3 linked regions of the Homo sapiens genome follow. The protein of the gene in region 3 purifies or fractionates together with the protein of the main gene of each other region. This does not show direct contact. Each region holds a gene or a part of one and is shown on either strand. Other genes may lie near its edges.

Evidence for each region.
Region 1: the proteins of AIFM3 (region 3) and NMT2 purify together in Homo sapiens (affinity purification with mass spectrometry; 2 studies listed by BioGRID and IntAct, with this or other methods). This does not show direct contact.
Region 2: the proteins of AIFM3 (region 3) and PGK2 purify together in Homo sapiens (affinity purification with mass spectrometry; 2 studies listed by BioGRID and IntAct, with this or other methods). This does not show direct contact.

The regions. Positions count from the first base shown.
Region 1 is NC_000010.11:15,158,643-15,165,753, reverse strand, and holds part of NMT2 (glycylpeptide N-tetradecanoyltransferase 2), read left to right. Parts: intron 1-5,717; exon of another isoform or gene 5,718-5,921; intron 5,922-7,111.
Region 2 is NC_000006.12:49,785,129-49,792,125, forward strand, and holds PGK2 (phosphoglycerate kinase 2), read right to left. Parts: upstream 2,158-6,997; 5' UTR 2,060-2,157; coding exon 806-2,059; 3' UTR 532-805; downstream 1-531. UniProt on the Homo sapiens protein: Essential for sperm motility and male fertility. Not required for the completion of spermatogenesis.
Region 3 is NC_000022.11:20,963,328-20,970,315, forward strand, and holds the start of AIFM3 (apoptosis-inducing factor 3), read left to right. Parts: upstream 1-3,927; 5' UTR 3,928-3,976; intron 3,977-4,477; 5' UTR 4,478-4,617; coding exon 4,618-4,648; intron 4,649-6,988. UniProt on the Homo sapiens protein: Induces apoptosis through a caspase dependent pathway. Reduces mitochondrial membrane potential.

The sequences.
Region 1 (7,111 bases), on a different chromosome or scaffold from region 3:
GGCGCGTGGCACCACACCCAGCTAATTTTTGTATTTTTAGTAGAGATGGGGTTTCACCATGTTTGCCAGGCTGGTCTCGAACTTCTGACCTTAGGTGATATGCTTGCCTCGGCCTCCCAAAGTGCTGGGATTACAGGTGTAAGCCAGTGTAAAGAGTTAAATGTACTCTTTAACTTTTTGGTCCACCCAAGCGTGGAAGTGGCAAACCACTATAAAACTTTCATGAATTACAAAAAACATGGGGGAAGAAGGGATTGTCAGTTTTAATTAGTGAGACTATATTCAGACAAGTATAATTTTATTATTTTCAAACAATGTTTGGCAATTAGAACCAGGCTAATAGAGGATTGCCTAAAGACATCTTTATATAACTTACTTTAACACACGATTTGCAATTAGAATTAGGGAGTAGGTCTTTATAAAGAGCTTGAAGGAGCCTGGAAAGACTTTCTACATAGATAAAAATTAACCTCAGTCCAGCTTCCTATATGAATTATTAGAAATAGTCCAGATTACTGAAGATTTCTGTTCTGCTATGGGTGGCAGTGGTACAAAAAGGTGACCTGGAGGATGATTTTTTTTTTTTTTTTGAGATGGAGTTTTGCTCTTGTCACCCAGGCTGGAGTGCAATAGTACGATCTTGGCGCACTGCAACCTCCACCTCCCGGGTTCAAGCAATTCTCCTGCCTCAGCCTCCCAAGTAGCTGGGATTACAGGCGTGCATCACCACGCCCAGCTAATTTTGTATTTTTAATAGAGACAGGATTTTACCGTGTTGGTTAGGCTGGTCTCAAACTCCTGACCTGAGGTGATCCCCACCTCTGCATCCCAAAGTGCTGGGATTACAGGCGTGTGCCACCATACCTGGCTAATTTTGTATTTTTAGTAGAGATGGGGTTTTACCATGTTGGTCAGGCTGGTCTTGAACTCCTGACCTCAGGTGATCCCCTGGCCTCGGCCTCCCAAAGTGCTGGGATTACAGGCCATGGTGCCCGGCCTGGAGGATGAATTTCCTAGGAGCTTTCACCGTTGGATCTGAGGTTAAGATGCTCAAGGATCTTTAATACTTCCCTCATTTTGCTGTGTTTTTGCCTTCTGTTACTTTCTTCTGAAGGGCTTTGGGGACATTGAGGACAGGCCAAATTGTTGAAGAATTATTTAGAACCCACTGTCTTCTCGCTGTCCTTTTGATGTCCGGCTTCTCCAGTTATGAAATACATTTGGTATTGGTCATGATCTCTTACTGAGCTAATGTTATGGTCCATTGTTGGAGACAGAGTCAAATAAAATTCGTGTTGAACTTTGGTAACAAAACCAAATCTGTCCCCTTGCTTAACCAACATTGACTTACAGAGAGCATATACTTCCTAGAAAAATAGATGTTTCTCATAGCTTTCCGTTAAGAGAGCTTTTCCCTCAATATTCACTGGAAGCAGCTACTAAGAAGATTTATATAGGAACCAAAATAAACATAGGTGAGTATGTTTTTGTTGGCAGATACATGACTAAATTAGTCCCTGGGGTAGACATGAAATAGGGTTAAGACCTTTTTTTTTTTTTTTTTTTTTTTTGAGACCAATTCTCGCTCTGTCCCCCAGGCTGAAGTGCAGTGGCGCGATCTCGGCTCACTGCAAGCTCTGCCTCCCAGGTTCACGCCATTCTCTTGCCTCAGCTTCCGGAGTAGCTGGGACTACAGTAGGCGCCCGCCACCACGCCTGGCTAATTTTTTTGTATTTTTAGTAGAGACGGGGTTTCACCATGTTAGCCAGGATGGTCTCCATCTCCTGACCTTGTGATCCGCCCGCCTCGGCCTCCCAAAGTGCTGGGATTACAGGCGTGAGCCACCGTCCCCGGCCTAAGACGTTTTTAAGAGTTCTTTTTCTTAGAAAGATTGAAGATCTGGTATTGGACAAAGATGAAAACTTTGGAATTCTTTTAACAAAGAACATAATCTGTCTTCTACCATCCCCAATTTAGGGGGTAAAAAAAGGAAGTTCTTCTTTGGGCACTATGTTGTTGTATCTGACTTCATATGTCTGTTGTTGAAATTGAGTTGGGAACTTCCCCTTTGTCAGCTGTGTGGTATCAGTGGGAAAATGCAGAAACATTATGACTTGCAATAAGTTTTTCTTATGGAAAATTTAGGGATAACTCAAAGCTGCCCTTTCTGAAATTTGATCTGTTATCAACTGTATAAATCTAAATGGAAAAATAGATTAACGACAGTCTTTGCCTGAGGGACCTCCTCAAATCAAGAACTACTGTTTGAAATGATCAAGTGTCTGCTAAGACTTGCATCTGAATGGGTGATGTCACCCTTTGGCCCAGAACAAATTTTTTCCAGGGTTGTCTAAATATAGGACACATACTTTGCCATCTTTGTTTGTTAGTGCAAATGTACGTTATACATCTATACTAGTTAAAATCACTTTATTTTAACAGAACCAAGTTCTACTCCAAGTTCAAGAAATTGATTGTTGTTTTCTTTGAAAACATGTTAATGACGTTTTAAAAATACGCTTATTCAAAAATCAAACAATAGGGCCAGGTGTGGTGGCTCATGCCTGTCATCCCAGTGCTTTGGGAAGCCAAGGTGGAGGATCGCTTGAGGCCAAGAATTCAAGATCAACCTGGGGAACATAGCAAGACCCTATCTCGATGAAATAAAAAATGAGCTAGACATGGTGGTGCATGCGTATAGTTCCAGCTACTTGGGAGGCTGAGATGGGAGAATTGCTTCAGCCCAGAGAGCTGTGATCGCACTACTGTACTCCAGCCTGGGCAACAGAATGAGACTCTGTCTAAAAATATACATATATATATATCTCTCTCTTATATGTATATATTTATATATATCACATATATAAATATCAAAAGATATCAAATATATAGATATATAAATATCAAATATATAGAGATATATAAATATCAAATACAGATATATAATATCAAATACATAGAGATATATAAATCAAATATATATATAAATAAAATATATATATATATCAAACAATAAGGTATATAAGGTAGAGTGAAAGCCCCTGGTCACCTTATTTCCCAGAGCTGTCACCACTGATAGTTTAATGAACTCACTTTTTAATATGTGTGTGTGTTTAACATCGCTGGGATCTTACTGTACCTGGGTGCATTTGTTACCATGTATGTTTCGCTGACTCTTATTGTTGTGTGCTGGAACTTTCTGGGGTGATAGTAATCCAGTTGGGCAGTCATCAACACATGGAGCACTTGCATGTGACAAGTGTGACTGAGCTGAATGTTTTTATTTTATTTGAATTAATTTAAATTTAAATAGCTCCATGTGACTAGTGGCTATCATACTGGACAGCTCAGATCATATTCAGTCTTTGAATTTTGTTTATAAGCTTTCTTGGTACTCAAAAATTTCTGTATTTTATTTCCTGTCTTTGGTAGAATATGTCTAGTTTTCATTCTTTTTTTCTTCTGTGGATTATCTGTACACTTTTTTTTTTTTTTTTTTTTTGAGACAAGGTCTCACTCTGTCATCTGGGCTGGAGTGCAGTGGCACAATCTCAGCTCACTACAGCCTTGACCTCCTGGACTCAAGTGATCCTCCCACCTCAGCCTCTCAAGTAGCTAGGACTACAGGCACATGCCACCACACCTGGCTAATTTTTGTATTTTTGTAGAGACAGGGTCTCACTATGTTGTCTAGGCTGGTCTCGAACTCCTGAACTCAAGCAGTTCACCCACCTCCGTCTCCCAAAGTGTTGGGACTACAGGCGTGAGCCACCGTGCCCGGCGATCTGTACATTTTGAACAAGTATGTTTTCATCTATATTTCTTTATCCATATCAAAAAATTAACCACTATTTAAAATATTCTACCATCTCACAAGAAAAATCATGTAGGATATTTTGACTTCTTTTCATTTCCTAGGTTTAATTGAAATAACCTGGAATTGTAATTCTTTTATTTTTGCCCTTGTGTCACTAGAGACTTTTTTCTTAACTATTACATGTTTCACATTCCTGTTAACAAAAACATTTTAGACTTTCCTGACAGCTTTATTGTTTTTATGGGTTTCCATCGTTCTTTATAAAACACATCCTCCCGGCCAGGCGTGGTGGCTCGCACCTGTAATCCCAGCACTTTGGGAGGCCGGGGTGGGCGGATCACCTGAGGTCAGGAGTTCGAGACCAGCCTGGACAACATGGTGAAACCCCATCTCTACTAAAAATACAAAAAAACATTAGCCAGGTGTGGTGGCGGGCGTATGTAATCTCAGCTACTCGGGAGGCTGAGGCAGGCAGGAGAATCACTTGAACCCAGGAGGTGGAGGTTGCAGTGAGTCGAGATTGCACCATTGCACTCCAGCCTGGGCGACAGAGCAAGACTCTGTCTCAAAAAAATAAAAGTAAAAAATAAAACACATCCTGTCTTTTTCTTCTTTAACAGCATTCTCACATGATTTTTTTTCTTAGAGTGCGTGGATGATGTATTTTGAGTTCTTGCATGTCTGAAAATGCCATTCTTTTCCCCTCCCACATAATACATAGCCTGGGTGTGCATGTGACTCTATGATAACAATCGTTTTCCTTGAAACTCCATAAACGTTTTAATATCTTCCAGTATTTACTGGTACAGATGTTGTTTTCTTTGTGTTTTTTTTTTTTTTTTTTTTTTTTTTTTTGATTTTTGAGGCAGAGTCTCGCTCTGTCACCCAGGCCAGGCTGGTCTCGAACTCCTGACCTTGACCTCAGGTGATCCACCTGACTCGGTTCCCCAAAGTGCTGGGACTACAGGTGTGAGCCACTGTGCCTGGCCAGATGCTGTTTTCTCTGCTTCTCTGTCTTTTATAGGTAATCTTATTCTTTTTGTCTGTTTTAACTTGTTTTCAGTCTAGAAGCTTCTGGCATTTTTTCCCTGTTGTTCTATTACCAAAGGGTTTCCATGTCCTTTCACATGCTGGGATCGCCTGTCCTTTATTTTTTATTTTTTGCAATGGAGTCTTACTCTGTTGCCCAGGCTGGAGTGCAGTGTCGTCATCTTTGCTCACTGCAACGTCCACCTCCCAGGTTCAAGCGATTCTCCTGCCTCAGCCTCCCAAGTAGGCAGGATTATAGACGCACACTACCATGCCTAGCTAATTTTTGTATTTTTAGTAGAGACGGGGTTTCACCACGTTGGCCGGCTGGTCTCGAACTCCTGACCTCAAGGAATCTCCCCACCTCAGCCTCCCAAAGTGCTGGGATTACAGGTGTGAGCCACTGCACCTGGCACCTTTCCTTTACTATCTAAACAAAATGGCCTGAGCTGATACATGTTCATGGGGGTTTCTTGGGGTCTTAAGTTTTCATGGTCCTCAGGCACACCCACACTGCAGCCAACTTGCCCCATCACCGGGCTCCTTGTGCCTGTGTGTCCTTAGGGTGCTCTTTTTCTTCAACATTTGACCTTGGGTGGAACACGGTTATCTTCAGTTCTGTGTCTCTCACCACCCTCCTCCCAGGAATCACTAAAATCCAGCTATTGTGCACAGCATTTGCTGAAGCGTTTGTGGCTAATGGGGAGGGAGGGAGGTCTGATTACAGAGTAGCGCAGAAAACAACTTTGAATTCAGTGTCAGACATCATTGTTCACCAAGAGGAATTTGTTACTGCTCACGCCTTTCTGTGGGTCATGGCTTCCTCTGCTTCTGAGAGTGTCTCCTGATCTTTCTTCTCCTCTTCTCTAAGTTCAAGGTCAGCCCAAATGTCCTTTCTTTCATGAAGCCTTCCGCAGCCACTATGACCAAAGGCGCTGACCCCTGCCGGAAGCCCTGTAGCTCTTAGTGAGTGTATCTTTCCCGTGACATCTTTCCCAGTTGCTCTCACCTCATCTCCCCAGCCCTCTGCTCGGGAAGACCCTCATTCTCCTGCCCCAAGCTGTGGCTCCTAGAGGTGAGTTCCTTGTCCACAATCACAAATGGGAGATGTGGGTCTTTGCGTCTGTTGCTTAATGTGTGTGTAGCATCTACCAACCAGCTAGAGTAAAAGGTTTTATTTTGCTGGGCGCAGTGGCTCACGCCTGTAATCCCAGCACTTTGGGAGGCCGAGGCGGGTGGATCACCTGAGGTCAGTAGTTCGAGAGCAGCCTGGGCTACATGGTGAAACCCCATCTCTACTGAAAATACAAAAATCAGTCTGGCACGATGGCGGGCACCTGTAATCCCAGCTAATCGGGAGGCTGAGGCAGAATTGCTTGAACCCGAGAGATGGAGATCACTTTATAAGCACATACTGCAGTGAGCCGAGATTGTGCCACTGTACTCCAGTGAGCCTGGGCGACAGTGAGACTCTGTCTCAATAAATAAATAAATAAATAAATAAATAAATATTTTAAGGAGGTTTTATTTAAATATACAATAGGTTATCTGAAAATAAAGTATGGCTGGACTTTATTAGAATTAAACATTATAGAAAGTCAAGTACCCAAGGTCCATCTGTCTTTCTAACCTCTCTCCCTTTCTGTCTCAGTCTCTGTCAACTAGACTGCCCCAAGCATCTGTTCCTTAGTTCAGATTCTCCAGAAAGGATCTCACTGGTTTCTGGCCAAGAAAGGGATTATCCAGGCATGATCCAGTCCACTGTGATGGAGAAGGGAAAGGGAGGGGTAGAAGAGAATTGTGTGGTACAACATGGCCACTGAGGGCCACACCTTTGGTGAGACCTGTGGGCAAAGGGAGTTTTCAGGGAAGGACATAGTGAACAATGCTGGCACCTTGCTGGGACTGAATTGTATCTCCCTGCCAATTCATATGTTGAAGCCTAAATCCCCAACGTGATGGTGTCTGGAGGTGGCACCTTTGGGGGGTAAATAGCTTACAAGGGTGGAGTCCCCATGAATCGGATCAGTGTATGCTTATAAAGAGATAGAGTCCAGTGCTTTGTTGCTCTGCCAAGAATAAGGCCCTCACCAAAAACCTGACCCTGCTGGCACCCTGATCTTGGTGGACTTCCAGCCTCCAGAACTGTAAGAAATAAATGTCTTTTCTTTAAGTAATCAGTCTATCGTATTCTGTAATAGCAGGCTGAACTAAGACACACCTCAAAACATGTTTGCAGAACACAGCGTGTCTGCCTGTCTACTC
Region 2 (6,997 bases), on a different chromosome or scaffold from region 3:
CTGTTTTCTAATAGAGAATTTTTATCTCTATTTTCCCATTATTAAACCAGCTATGTATATATATTTTATTTATCTCAAAAACCAAGTTTTAGAACTTACCAGTTATATTATCTATTTATTAAATAATGCCTGCCTTAAAAATAAAACAATTACTTATTTACAACTTGGGTTTAACTTGTAGCTCTTTTTCTAGCTGGCATTTGTGTGTAATCTTGTGCATTGATATGCACACAAACATAATTCTTACCTTGAGTTTAATTTCTTTTCTTTTTAAAAATTCCTTGGGTTTAATAAGTGTCTTTCATTTCTCTTTTTTTTGGTCCTATTTAGTATAACATTTCCCCTTAGCAGAACTTTAATGGTACCCATGAGTTCTTTATATGTAATTATTTTTCTCAGTTTATTTGGGCATATTTATTGTTTGTTTGTCAACTTTCATTCCACCCTTTCCCAACAAATTAAGTTTTATCTTTTGGGTTTCAAATTATGAAACAATAGCAAAGTTGGACTAAAATAAAAAGATTCAGTTTCTTCAGCTCACTTTCTTTAATAGGCAACTTAAGAATATGTCCTCCCTAGATAGCACAATGGTGAAGTTCAAATGAGAACTTGAACAGGCAAATGCGTGACCAAACTAAAATGAATTGCTGTGCTGATATTAAGAGTTCCTGATGGCCTGCTGCTTGTCCATTACATAGGTCTTGATCTAGGAGTAGATTTTAACAAAAGTCACATCGAGATGTAAAAGCATTAAGCTGACTTAAGGGCCATGGACAGAAAACAGAAGGAAGTAACACTATATTAACTACATGTTGCTGAGGGCCTCTACTCCAGGAAGGATTTTACCTTCCAGAAGCTCTAGACTGGCACCGCCTCCAGTGCTGACATGGCTGACTTTATCTTCAGTGTTCCATTTGGCACAGCAAGTAGCAGTGTCTCCACCCCCTATAACAGTGATGCAGCCCTTGGAAGTGGCTTTCACAATTTCATCCATGAGGGCTTTGGTTCCCTTAGCAAAGGCATCCCATTCAAATACTCCTAACGGCCCATTCCAAACAATTAGCCTTGCTTGAGCCACAACTTGAGCATGATTCTTGTTGCTCTCAGGACCACAGTCCAAACCCATCCAGCCAGGAGATATGCCAGATGCTACAGTGGCTTTTCCAACCTGAGCGTTCTCGTCAAACTTGTCCCCAGTAACAAAATCAACAGGAAAAGTAATCCTTACACCATTCTTTTGTGCTTTGGCCATGATATCTTTAACGATCTTGGCTCCCTCTTCATCAAACAGGGAAGCACCAATCTCCATGTTGTTGAGTACCTTAAGGAAGGTATAAGCCATTCCACCACCAATAATCATCTCATTGACTTTGTCCAGCATATTTTTGATAAGTTGGATCTTGTCTGCCACTTTGGCTCCACCAAGTATAGCCAGAAAGGGTCTCACTGGGTTTTCCAAGGCTTTAGCAAAGTAATCTAGTTCCTTCTTCATCAAGAATCCGGATGCTTTATGGGGCAGATTCACTCCCACCATGGAACTATGAGCGCGGTGTGCAGTGCCAAAAGCATCATTGACATAGACGTCCCCTAGCTTGGAAAGTGATGCTCGGAAGGCTTCTATTTTATCTGGCTCAGCTTTAATCTTCTTTCCAGAGGGATCTTGGCCCTTCCCTTCTTCCTCCACATGAAAGCGCAGGTTCTCCAGCAGGATGACTGAACCAGGAGCTGGGTTGGCACAGGCTTTCTCCACTTCTGCGCCTACACAGTCCTTCAGGAACAGAACATCCTTGCCCAGCAAGGATTTGAGCTCAACAGCAACAGGTGCTAAGGAATATTTGTCAGGCATGGGAACACCATCAGGCCGACCTAGATGACTCATAAGAACTACTGCCTTGGCTCCATTGTCCAGGCAGTACTTGATGCTTGGGATGGAAGCCTTGATCCTCTGGTTGTTTGTAATCTGGTTCTTCTTCATGGGAACATTGAAGTCTACTCTCATGATGACTCGCTTCCCTCTAACATCCAGTTTGTCTAAAGTCAACTTCTTAGAAAGAGACATCTTGACAATATAAAGACATAGGCTGACACCTGGATCTTAATGCTGAAGAACCAACTTGCTGTTGAGGGGCTGGGTCGGTGGTGACTTCTAACGCCTTTGCCCTTGTCCCGCCCCTTTCTTCTCCTCACTGTCTCCAGCACAACGGCCACTGTTAGACTGGAAAGCAAATCTAGCTTTGTGATTGGCTCATGGTCCTGTCAATCTCGATCTGAACTGTGTTGCTAGGTGAAGATTCCAACTTCCTGGGCAGAGGGTCATGTAGTGGAATAGAGCTGTACCTGGCTTCAGGCGAGACTTGGGTAGGTGAAGAAACCCCAGAATAAGAATGGTTCTAAAAAAACAAGAATAGTCCTGAGGTGTGCGCCGCCTTCTGGCTCTTTTTGCCCCCACCCCACAGCTCGGTTAACAGTTGCTTTTATTATTAAAAACAAAACAAAAAGAACTCCACCCCCACCCCCGCAAACCTACATACACCTCATTCATGTCAAATCTTAACCATTTTGATATGTAAAAACCTCTGCAGTGCCAAATAAAAGGAATATTTGAAATAATGATTTTCATATGAAACCTTGCTTATTCAAGTCAGGATAGTATAGTTCTGTTTTTTCCTTGTCTTGATAAATATTTCTTTGAGGATGTGGCTTGTTGTTAGTCTTCATCTTTAGATCTATTCTGGGACGTGGTGGGAATGCTGTCATATTTTCATTACTTTGCTTCTTCCATTTTCAGACTACCATGAAAGAATGTTTGGTCACTTCTGCAGGAGAATCCCATAAGATCATAGCAAAGAGAGTATCAGTAACAAGTGCTGAAAGTAATGGTGACATTTCTTTCAGACTACAATGTTATGATGAGGCTCCTTATTTTTTGTCTCCTCTCTGTTTGCTTTCCTACCTGTACAACTTAGAAATTGAGCTGAAAAATAAATGCATGGTTTTCATGAAGATGAAAACATATATTAGAATTGAAAGTGAGTAAGATATTCTATTTTTGGAGAAAGCAAATGTATGTGGCTAGTTGGTTTAGTAATGAAAATTGGCTTTACAGTTTTTTTCATTCTACTCCATAAGTTGAGTGAACTAAATATGTAAAATGAAGGCTTTGACAGAAATATATTTGAGGCATCTCCTATTAAGATGGCTAAAATAAAAAATAAAAACAAGTGTTGAGAAAGAAGTGGACAAATTGGAATCCTCATTTATTGCTGATAGGAATGTCTAATGGTGCAGCCACTTTAAAAAACAGTTTATCGGTTCCTCAATGTTGAACATCGAGTCAACAGCATTTAAAAGCAAACTTAAATGGTGTTAAAATATATAGTAACAGAAACTCTCATTTGTTGCTCCCAGGAATGAAATATGCTACAGACATTTTGGGAAACAGCTTGGCAATTTCTTAGAAATATGCATAGACTTACCATACAAGTCATCAATCCTATTTCTAGATATTCATCCAAGGACATCAAAAACCTGTATTCTCTCAAACTTCTGTAAACAAACGTTTAGAGCAGTTTTATTAATAATTACCAAAATTGTATATTCTTCAAGTAATAAATAAATAAACTGTGATATATCCATGCAATGGAATATTATTTTTTAAAAAAAGAAAAGAAACAAGCTATTTACTTACACAAAAGCCCTGGATAAAACTTAAATGTGCCTTACTAACTGAAAGACGCCAGGCAAAAAAATTTTGTAGTTATTGTATAATTCCATTTGTATGACATTTGATAAAAGGCAAAACTATAGGGATGGAAAACATATCAGTGGTTGCTACAGGTTAAGAGAGCGTGGTCAACTATAATGGGGATACACAGGAGGATTTTTAGTGTGGTAAACTTTTCTATGAGGTACTGGAGTGGTGGATACAACATTCTATGCACTTGTCAAAATTCATAGAATCGTACGTTGTAGAGAGTAAACTTTAATGAATGCAAATAAAAAATATGATCCAGAGTGTTAGGGAATCGTATTATATAATGTAGCCTCTGACAGATAAGCCTAACTGTATCGTAATATATAGGAAATTTTACTACATGTGATGTGGAAATTTTACTACAGGTGATGTGGACAAAAAAAGGAAATGACTTAAGTAACTTTGCAAAAGAGGTTTTCAGTTTGTAAAACTAAAGACAAAAACAGCTGTCCATAAATATAATACTCTAGTTGGTAAGTTTGAATATCACAAGCTTATAGGTGAATAATTCTTAAACTATTTGTGTTATTAGAGATAAACAAATAATGGAAGATAATTAAAAGTTTCTCACCGTCAGGAAAATAAATTACAAATAAGCAAGGGCAGAATGAACTCTGTGGTGCTGGATTAAGAGTCTGAGATATCGGTATGAACTCATATTAAGTTCAATATACACATAGGTTGATATGGAAAATAATTACAGATATATGTGTATAAATATGTGTTAATTTTCTCTTGCTACTGAAGCAAGTTGTCACAAATTTAGCTACTTGAAATAACACAATTTTGTGTTCAAAAACAATTCTGTAGGTCAGAGATTCAGGTTGGCTCTGCTGGTTTCTTGCTCTGGATTTCATAAAGTTTTGATGGCTGGGTTTTCATTACAAGGCTCTAGGAAGAATTTACCTCTAAGCTCATTTAGGCTTTTGGCAGGATTCAGTTCCTTGCAATTATAGGACTGAGCTACCTGCTTTTGGCTGGCTGTTAATAAACCCCTAAAGGCCCTCTCAGGTTTGTAGGTTCCTGTATCTGAGAGCCAGCAATGATGCATTGAATTCTTCTTACAATTGGAATCTCTCTGATTTTCATTTCTACTCCATCTGTTTTCCACTTTCATCCAGAGAAAATTCTCTGCTGTTAAGGACTCATTTGATTAAGTTGGGCCAAACTAGATAATACAGGATAAACTCCCTAATTAAATACTGTGATATAATTATATCTGCAAAGTCTCTTTTGTCATGTAGCATCAGTATTTACAAGTTCTGGGGAATAGGACATGGACATCTTTGGTGGGCCGTTATTCTGCCTACTCAAACAGGATTTTGATAAACGCAAATATTTTCAAGCTCTGTTCGTAAGAGGGCAGAGAAGCAGTGACTTATAAATAAATAAGTGGGGGTGGGGGAAAGGACAAAACTTCTCTACAGAGGAATTCCAAATAATGTATGTAGACACATTCCTCTACTAGAGGTGGAGCTTAATGGACTGTTTGAATGTAGTGATAAATAGATTCTGAGTATTCAAATTACTATTCACCATGATTTACAAATACTAGATTTGAAAGACCCAAAAGGAAAATATACTCTTCTGTTTTGGCACCTTTCTGTAAAGAAGATTTGCAGTGTGCTCTGCACTGAGCTAAACCACAAGGGCATTTTGTCACCACTTCCCCAAGATCTGTCTTCATGTAACAGCATCAAGCTCTGAGGACCTTGTCTTTCAAAATTAAAATCCTGTTACCACGTATCATCCCACATAGAGGCTGAAATGTCTTCTTGACTAAATCCAGTTTTCATCTATGTTCACAGTATCAATGTCTCTACGTTCTCCTGTTCTTGGACAGGTTTTCCAGGTTTTCTTTATGCAAATGTCCTCTGTTTCTCTCCAGGTCTTTTAAGGGCTGCTTACTTAGCTACTAGTATTTGCTCATGGTGGTGACTGATTAAAGTCTATGATGGAAAGATTTCATTATAGGTTATCCATTTTCTTTGAAAATTGAAACATGTTATGGATATAATCTATTATTCTTTCTATTAGGAAGCCTGTGAAATATTTGGGGCAGTTTACCTTCAATTCACCTTTCCATTGACAATGATTGTAAAATATGCAAATATATATTCCATACGTTATGCAGAGTTCTGGGTGCTGAAATGACTAATAATCTATAGGTATGTATATTCTCATGTACATATTGTGTCATTTTAGTCACTAATTTTTAATATTTCGAAACACACCAATCCTTCTTTTAACAATTTAAAAACAATTTTTAAATTGTTTATGAATTTGTAAATGTCCCTATTAATAATAGCAGCAAACTTCAATTTATGCATTTGAAAATGTTTCCATGAGTTTTTGGGATCATTGTAAAAGGTAGACTAAGGTGGCTGTATGGTGCTATCTCTCCCTTTCAATGGCGAAAACCGCTACTCTTGCGTCAACCTAATATATAACTTTTTACACAGTGCAGAATTAGTTTGAAAACAACATAATAATTCACACGATAACATTATGTATGAATTAGCCAATGCATTTCTTTTAAAGTATACTTTTTTGCATTTGTTCCTCCATCTACTTATCTATTCTTCTTTTTTTTCTTTATTATTATTATTATTATTATTATACTTTAAGTTTTAGGGTACATGTGCACAATGTGCAGGTTAGTTACATATGTATACATATGCTATGCTGGTGCACTGCACCCACTAACTCGTCATCTAGCATTAGGTATATCTCCCAATGCTATCCCTCCCCCCTGCCCCCACCCCACAACAGTCTCCAGAGTGTGATGTTCCCCTTCCTGTGTTCATGTGTTCTCATTGTTCAATTCCCACCTATGAGTGAGAATATGCGGTATTTGGTTTTTTGTTCTTGTGATAGTTTACTGAGAATGATGATTTCCAATTTCATCCATGTCCCTACAAAGGACATGAACTCATCATTTTTTATGGCTGCATAGTATTCATGGTGTATATGTGCCACATTATCTTAATCCAGTCTATCATTGTTGGACATTTGGGTTGGTTCCAAGTCTTTGCTATTGTGAATAATGCCGCAATAAACATATGTGTGCATGTGTCTTTATAGCAGCATGATTTATAGTCCTTTGGGTATATACCCAGTAATGGGATGGCTGGGTCAAATGGTATTTCTAGTTCTGGATCCCTGAGGAATCGCCACACTGACTTCCACAATGGTTGAACTAGCTTACAGTCCCACCAACAGTGTAAAAGTGTTCCTATTTCT
Region 3 (6,988 bases):
GCAGCAGGAACCTCAAGCACAGTGCCTGCGGCAAAGGGAGCCACAATGGACTTGCCCCAGGTCAGGCCTGCACTTGCCTTGTGTCAGGGTATCTCCCCAAGTTGCTGGCCTCAGTCCCTACACTGACCTGTTTCCCCAGCTTTATCTCTGGCACCCCAAACTCAGCAGCCCCGACCCCACTTCCCAAGCACCCCCTGTGCCTGGCTCTGTGCCTGTCATGGTGTCCTGGCAGCAGTCTGGGAGAGTATTTCAGTTACCTGCGGTGTCCTGGGAAGGCTGGAGCAGAGGGGTCCACTCACTGATTGCCAAGGTCACAGAACAGGACTTGCATTGTGCACTGGAGGCCCTGTGGTCTTGCATGAGCCTGGTAGGCCTCTCCCCTCCTGCTTCCAGCCCTCCATCTGGGAGGCCAGCCTGCCCAGGGCTGCTCTGCCACTTAGCAGCTGTGTGGCCCTGGAGAGTCCCTAACCTCACTGAACCTCAGTTTCTCCGTTTGTGAAATGGAGATAATACAAAGAGAACTTTCCTTCTCAGGCTGTTGTGATGGGTAAGGAAATAAATGCATGCAAAATCACAGCTGTAGTTACTATGAGGCACACTGTCTTCCTGGCTAGAGGAGATTCTGAAGGTGGGTGGGGCAGCAAGATCACCACGTGTATGAAATGGGGGCAGGCTGGTTGGAGACTGAGGGCACCAGCCCCAAGCACTGCCATCTGCCCTGTGATGGGACTCTCCTGTGGCAGTGGCAACGGTCCCACTGTGGAAGCAACACATGAGCTGAGAGGACTTGCCTGAACTGAGCCACATGTGCCCTCTGGGCCTGGTCACCCCACCACCTGCCCCCAGTGTGACCCATGCAGGGCCTGTTCCTGACCCTGAACGAGACCAGGACTCCCTGGGCTGCATTTCCTATCTGTAAAATTGTAGGAGGGTGGTGGTGGTGGGGGCTCGAACTTGCCCCCTGGGTGGGGTGGGGCATAAATAGTCCCAGAGGATGGCCTGGGAAGGCTGGCTGGGCCTGGCACAGGGGACTTTACTGCTGTCATTATTGTCCTCCTTACAGGAGAGGAGAGCAAGGCCCAGACCGGGGAGGAACCCACACAGCCTCTGTGCTCCAGCCTGCTTGAAAGACAAGGTCTACCTACAACGCAGAGATGCACACATTAAGGACAATGAAACACCCAAGTGTTAGGAACCAGAATAATCAGCCCTAATAGAGGGGAGGCTGATCAGGGAGGGCCTCCTGGAGGAGGAGGCACAACATCAGGGTGCACTGTGATTTCTGGAGACCCAAGGAGTTCTGGTAAATGACAGGTGAGAAAAAGAAAATGTAATAAAATATAATTGAAAACAGACCCTGGTATGTGTGGAGAGAGGGCCGGGAGGAACCTAGGACACCGGGGAACCTGAACTCCCCCAACCAGTGAAGGGAGCTGTGGGCAGCAAGGTTTGATTGGGGTTTTCTTTCTTGTGGAGGTTTCTCAGAGTGATTCAAGTTCCCCCACCCCGCCCACAGATGGTTCTGAGACTTTGGAAAGAAAGAAAAGGAAAAAAGACCCTGCCCGCGCCCCAGCTGGGCATCCCTGGGAGGTCGCGAGGATCCCCGGAGACCCAGACTCGGGCCCGGGGCGCCCCCGGCCAGAGCGGCCCCTGGCTGCCTCCCTACGCCCCGCGACTCCGGTCCGGACGCCGAGGGCCTCGGCCTGCCCCTGTCCCCCGGCCGCCCCCCACCTGCTCCGGCCCGGCGGGGCGGTGCTGGGCCCGCGGGCTCCCCGGCCGCAGTGCAAACGCAGCGCCAGACACGCCCCGCCCGCGCCTCCCCGCCCCCCCGCGCCCGCGGCCCCAAGCGGTTCCCGAGCCCAGGCCCGCGCCGAGCCCAGGTGAGCGCCCGCCCCGGGGACCCTGGTCCCCGGAACCCCGGTCCCCGCCCGCCGCCCCGCCTCTTCGCCCCGGCGCCGGGGGCCAGCGCTTGCGCTCCCAAGTCTCGGACCCCGGCCCGGCACGTTAGGGGCTGGGGGTTGGCAAGCGGGGCCAGAGGCACTGGCCGGGGTCCGAAGCTCACCTCGTCCTTCTCTCGTCCCACAACGGCCCCTTCCCGGCTCGCCGCGGGGCCCCACTGTGTGCCAGTCCCCCTTCTCGGGCTGCAAGGTCTGGCGGGGGCAACGGGACGGAGCCGGCGAGGCTGCTGGCATCGGCTTCCCAGAGAGAGGGAACTGCACGTGCAGAGGCGGGGAGAGTGGACAGAGGCTTGCCCTGAGCTCCGTGGGGGAGGGGAGAGCGCGGAGCCCCCACACTCGAAGGCAGGACTGGGATCAGATGCCACCCCTAGGACGCCTGGAAGCCACTGGGAGTCCGATCTGGGCAGGAGCCCTTGGGATGAGGCAGTGGGGGCAGGTGGCGAGAGGTGGAGGAGTGGGGAGAGGACCCTGCCCAGCCTGCACCCTGGGGGCGCCAGGAGCCCTGGGAGGGTCAGGTGGAGCAGGGGCCGCTCTGTGAGATGGGAGTAATCCAGTCCCGCCTCACAGGTCCTGGGGTCCCTGGGACAGACACAGACTCCTGCTGGGTGGTTAGCACTGGGCTCTGCTAGAACTTTTCTGCAGTGGGCAGCTCATGGGCAAGGAATAGCACTCGGGCGCTCTGCACTCTGGGGGTCCCTCCTGCCCTGCCCCTGGCAAGGACCTTTGCCTTTGAGTGGGGTGACTGGGCTCCAAGCCGATCTAGCACACAGTAGGCCGAAGGCACAGGGGCCCCACCCAGTCTCCTTCCTGGCCCAGGCCCTGGGGGATTCAGGTCCCTGGGTACTCGGGAAGGGACAGCACAGCCTGGGCAGGTCCCCAGTGGCAAGACCAGGTCTGACCTTTTCTGGGATCTGTGGCCCATCAGGTGAGGCCTGAGGTCAGCCAGGAAGGAAGCGGGCAGGGCTGAACCAGGGCTGAAACCAGGACCCAGGAAGGGACAGCCTAGTGCCCAGGGAAGGGGCAGGTGGGGCAGGTGGCAGTTGAGTTTTACAGACCTTCTTTGATGACAAGTGGGGGAAAGAGCCAAGGCACGCCCCAGTGGCTGTGGGAGCCACCGCCTCCTCCCCTGTAATGGGCACCTCGAGGACCGACAGGCGCAGGGGCCAGGCACCAAGGGTCCCTCTCCAACCTGGCCTTTTGTTTCCACCCCTTGCTCTCAGGCACCCACCCACGGCCCTTCCTGGTATCTGGACCAGACCAGGTGGGTCTCAGCCCCACCTCAAGTGAGACTTCAGGAAGAACTTCCAGAGGAAACTGGAGGATGGCAGTGGGATGGACTGTGGGGAGGTCATTTGCAAACAAGGCAGCTTATGCCTGTGCCCTGGGCCTTCCAAAGTCCACCTGTAGGCTGCATCTTCCGGAAGGCCCACCCTGTAGCCTGGAAGGCACCTGGCTACAGTGATCTCTCTGCTGTGCAGGTGTCCCCTCCCCCAGGGCACCTTGCAGGGCCTTAGGGTGATATGGGGGCTTTCTGGGCCCCTGCCCACCTTAAAACTGATCAAGGTGGGAGGGTGGGGTGGGAGGCCACAGGGATGCCCCTGCTGCTTGACCTTGATGGGACCTTGACCCCTTGCTTTCCCCATATGCTGTTGGGCATGACTGCCCACAGGCCTGGTGGGCGTTTGTGAAGGGCTGGAGTCGGGGGTAGGGGGAGCTTATGGCTGCTGGGCACAGGCGTGGCAGGGCTGTGTGCCTGGCTTCCCTTTCCCCTAACCCCATCAGGCCCGGGCTGGCCGCCCACTTCTGTTCACCACAGAGCAGGGTTTCCCTGGGGACCAGTGGACTGGCCCAGCCCCACACCGCCCCCCAGCCCCTCCTGGCCACAGCTTGAGCTGGGAGGAGGGTGGAGGCTGGGCCGCCTCCTGGACCCCTGCCCTCCCTGCCCGGCCTTCCAAGGCCCGGCAGCCTCAGTCCACTGCTGGGCCTGGAACACGGAGCAGTGGCTGCCCTGCGAGGAGGTGGGTGTCCGGAGTGCTAGCCAGGGTGGGGCTGGGCTAGGGGGAGCCTGATGTCACCCCCATTGTAGGAGGGAGAAGACCAAGGATGAGAAGGGCTTTGGCTTCCCCAAGGTGACCCCCTCTTTGAGCCTAGGCATAGTGGTCTCCCGGGAGAATGGAGGGTCCCAGAGCTCTCAGGCTGTGGGATTTGGAGAGGGGAAGGGGGGCACGAGGAGGCAGTAGAAATCAGGGAGGATTTCCTGGGCAAGGCAGCCGCGGGGCTGGACGATGGGCGGCCGAGGTTCGGGCAGAGGAACTCCACTGGAGGAGTGAGGGAGCTGAGCTTGGAGGGCTTCAAAGGGGAGGTGACCTCCAGGGCCCCACGCTCTGGGATCAGGCTCACGCCATGGTTCCCAGCTCAAATGTAAGACTCTTTCCGAAGCTCCCACTGTCTCTCTCCGTCCCTCTGTGTCTCTACCTGCCCACACGCCCCGGTCCTGATGGCTCCAGTCTCCCCTGCAGGTCCTAGAGCAGCTCCAGCAGGATGGCGGCTCCAGCGTCTCTAAGGCCTGCAGGGGGTCCAGCCCCATGGGGGGCGCCCTAGGCCTCCGACAGCTCCCCATCTGTGCTCCTGCCTGCCGGCCATCCTCAGGCCACTCGCCATGGGCGGCTGCTTCTCCAAACCCAAACCAGGTACCTCCTGTCTTCTTGTCTCCATCCTTTCTCCTCCCTCCCCGCCTCCTCCTCCCCCGTCTCCCCCCCCTCCCCCTCTGCACTCGGTAGGCCTCCGAAGTAGGTCAGGCTATCCAAGAACCCGCTCGGAATGTTAATACGCTGCCGCCAGGAGGGGGTAGGGGGCCTGGAGCAGTTCCCCCAGCTGGCCCCTGCTCCAGTGGGTGCCCCTTTTTCTTTGGGGCTTTGAGTGTTGGTGGTGGGAATAACAGCAGGACCCTTCTTGGAAAAGGAAAGTCAGGGTTCCTCCTGTTGCAGGGTTGGGGAAGGGGCTATGCCCCCAGGGCCAGGGAAGGGGGGAGCTGGGGACACGCTCAGCCACTCTGTGACCTAGGGCATGCAAGTTACCCCTCTGAGCCTCTGTTTTTCTCTCTGCAAAAGAGAGGGCCTGGCCACCCTGACCTCTTAGAGTTGCTGTGAGGGTGTAGTGGGCAGATCCTGGCTCTCTTTGCCTCCTCTGATCCCCTGTGTGGTCTCGGGCTGCCTTCTTGGCCTTTCTGGGCACACTTCCCCATTTATACAGGAAATCACCATCCAACCTAGCCTGAGCTACTCCAGCCAGAAGTGGGAGTGTCCTGGGGTGCTAGGGGAGGCCTGGGTCTTTTCTCCACTAAAGACTCATGTCTGCGGAGCTCTCCCTCTGGCCCCCCACTTTCCCTCTTCTCTCCTCACAACACCTGGGGAGGCAGGAGTGTGCAGCTTTGTCACAGGTGGAGAAACTGAGGCTTAGAGAGACCTCAAGAGCGCAGCCAGTGCTCCACTCAACCTGCCAGGCCACGCTGCCCCAGCCAGCTCACCCCAGCCAGCTCACCCCAGCCAGCTCACCCCAGCTCCCCTTACCTGATACCCATCAGCTCCGTTACCTTGGAACTTGTGAGGCTTTTCTCCCTTTCCTGGGTCTAAGGGAGAACTTGGGCGAGGGAGGAGGGCTGTGATGACCCACCAGGCAGAGGGACCCACTTGCCTCTGCTCCAAGAAGCCACTCTTCCTCCCCCGCTCCTGTGCTGTGGACACCTAGGCCTGGGCTGGATCCCTCTCTGCCTCAAAATGTGCCTTGGGCAGATGACGTCCATTGTCTCCCCCTAGCAGTGGGTGGGATGATGCCAGCTGGCCTCATACCAGGCGTCTGTGGCACCGCTGGGCTGGCAGGAGGCCCTGGCAGAAGATGCCACCTGCAGGTTCTTTTAAAGGACCCCAAATGGCTGGCCTGCCTGGGACCCGTGGCCCCAGGACTTCCAGTGTCGGGGGTGGCCACCCTCACCAAAGGCAGTCCTAAGAACTTAGGCAAATCCAGCCCTGCCCCTTTCTGGCTGTGTGGCCTTGGGCAGGTGATTTCCCCTCTCTGAGCCTCTGCATCCTCATTGTAAAGTGGGGCTGTTGTGCCTAGCATGAGGGCCTGGCACACCAGAAGCACTTGCGGAATTTTTTTTTTTTGAGACAGAGTTCACTCCTTCTCCCATGCTGGAGTGCAGTGGCGTGATCTCGGCTCACTGCAAGCTCCGCCTCCCAGGTTCATGCCATTCTCCTGCCTCAGCCTCCCAAGTAGCTGGAACTACAGGCGCCCGCCACCACGCCCAGCTATTTTTTTGTATTTTTAGTAGAGACGGGGTTTCACCGTGTTAGCCAGGATGGTCTCTATCTCCTGACCTTGTGATCCGCCCATCTCGGCCTCCCAAGGAATATTATTTGTTATCCCTTTTCTGAGCTGGGCTCTGTGCTGCCAGGCCTCCCCTGTGGGGCTGTAGCCAGAGGCTCAGGCCCCAGGTGCCCATGCTGGGCAGGTCAGGCATGAGGCTCAGGGAATTTCCAGATATGGGAGTGACAGCATTTGGGGCCTGAGGGTTCAGCTGGGGTCTTAAGGGGCCACAAAGAGACTAGATCAAGCAGAAGACCTCTGTGCAAATCCTTCACTTTCTATCTTGCTCCACTCGATTCTGTGGCTCCGTGTGCATCAGCACCTGCTTCCTGGGTTCCCTCTGTGCTCCTGTGTGTCCTGTCTGAGTAGTTGATAAGAAGGTATCAGACCAGTCCCTCACCTAGCTCAGAGCTAGGAGGAAGTGCAGCTCTCTTAGCATCTGTTCACCTGCCTTTTATTAGGCCATAACTGATACCTAAAGGCTTTCCATCCTCACCATGGCTGCTAGGAGGCTCAGAGCTAACTGGTAAAACACTGCTGCCCAACTCCATCTATTGAGCTTCTACTCTGGGTTACATACAGTATTTCCTTCAGCATTCACTGTCACCAACGAGGTAGGCATTTGCTGTTCTCTCTGTTTTATTTTCATTTTTTGAGATGGGGTC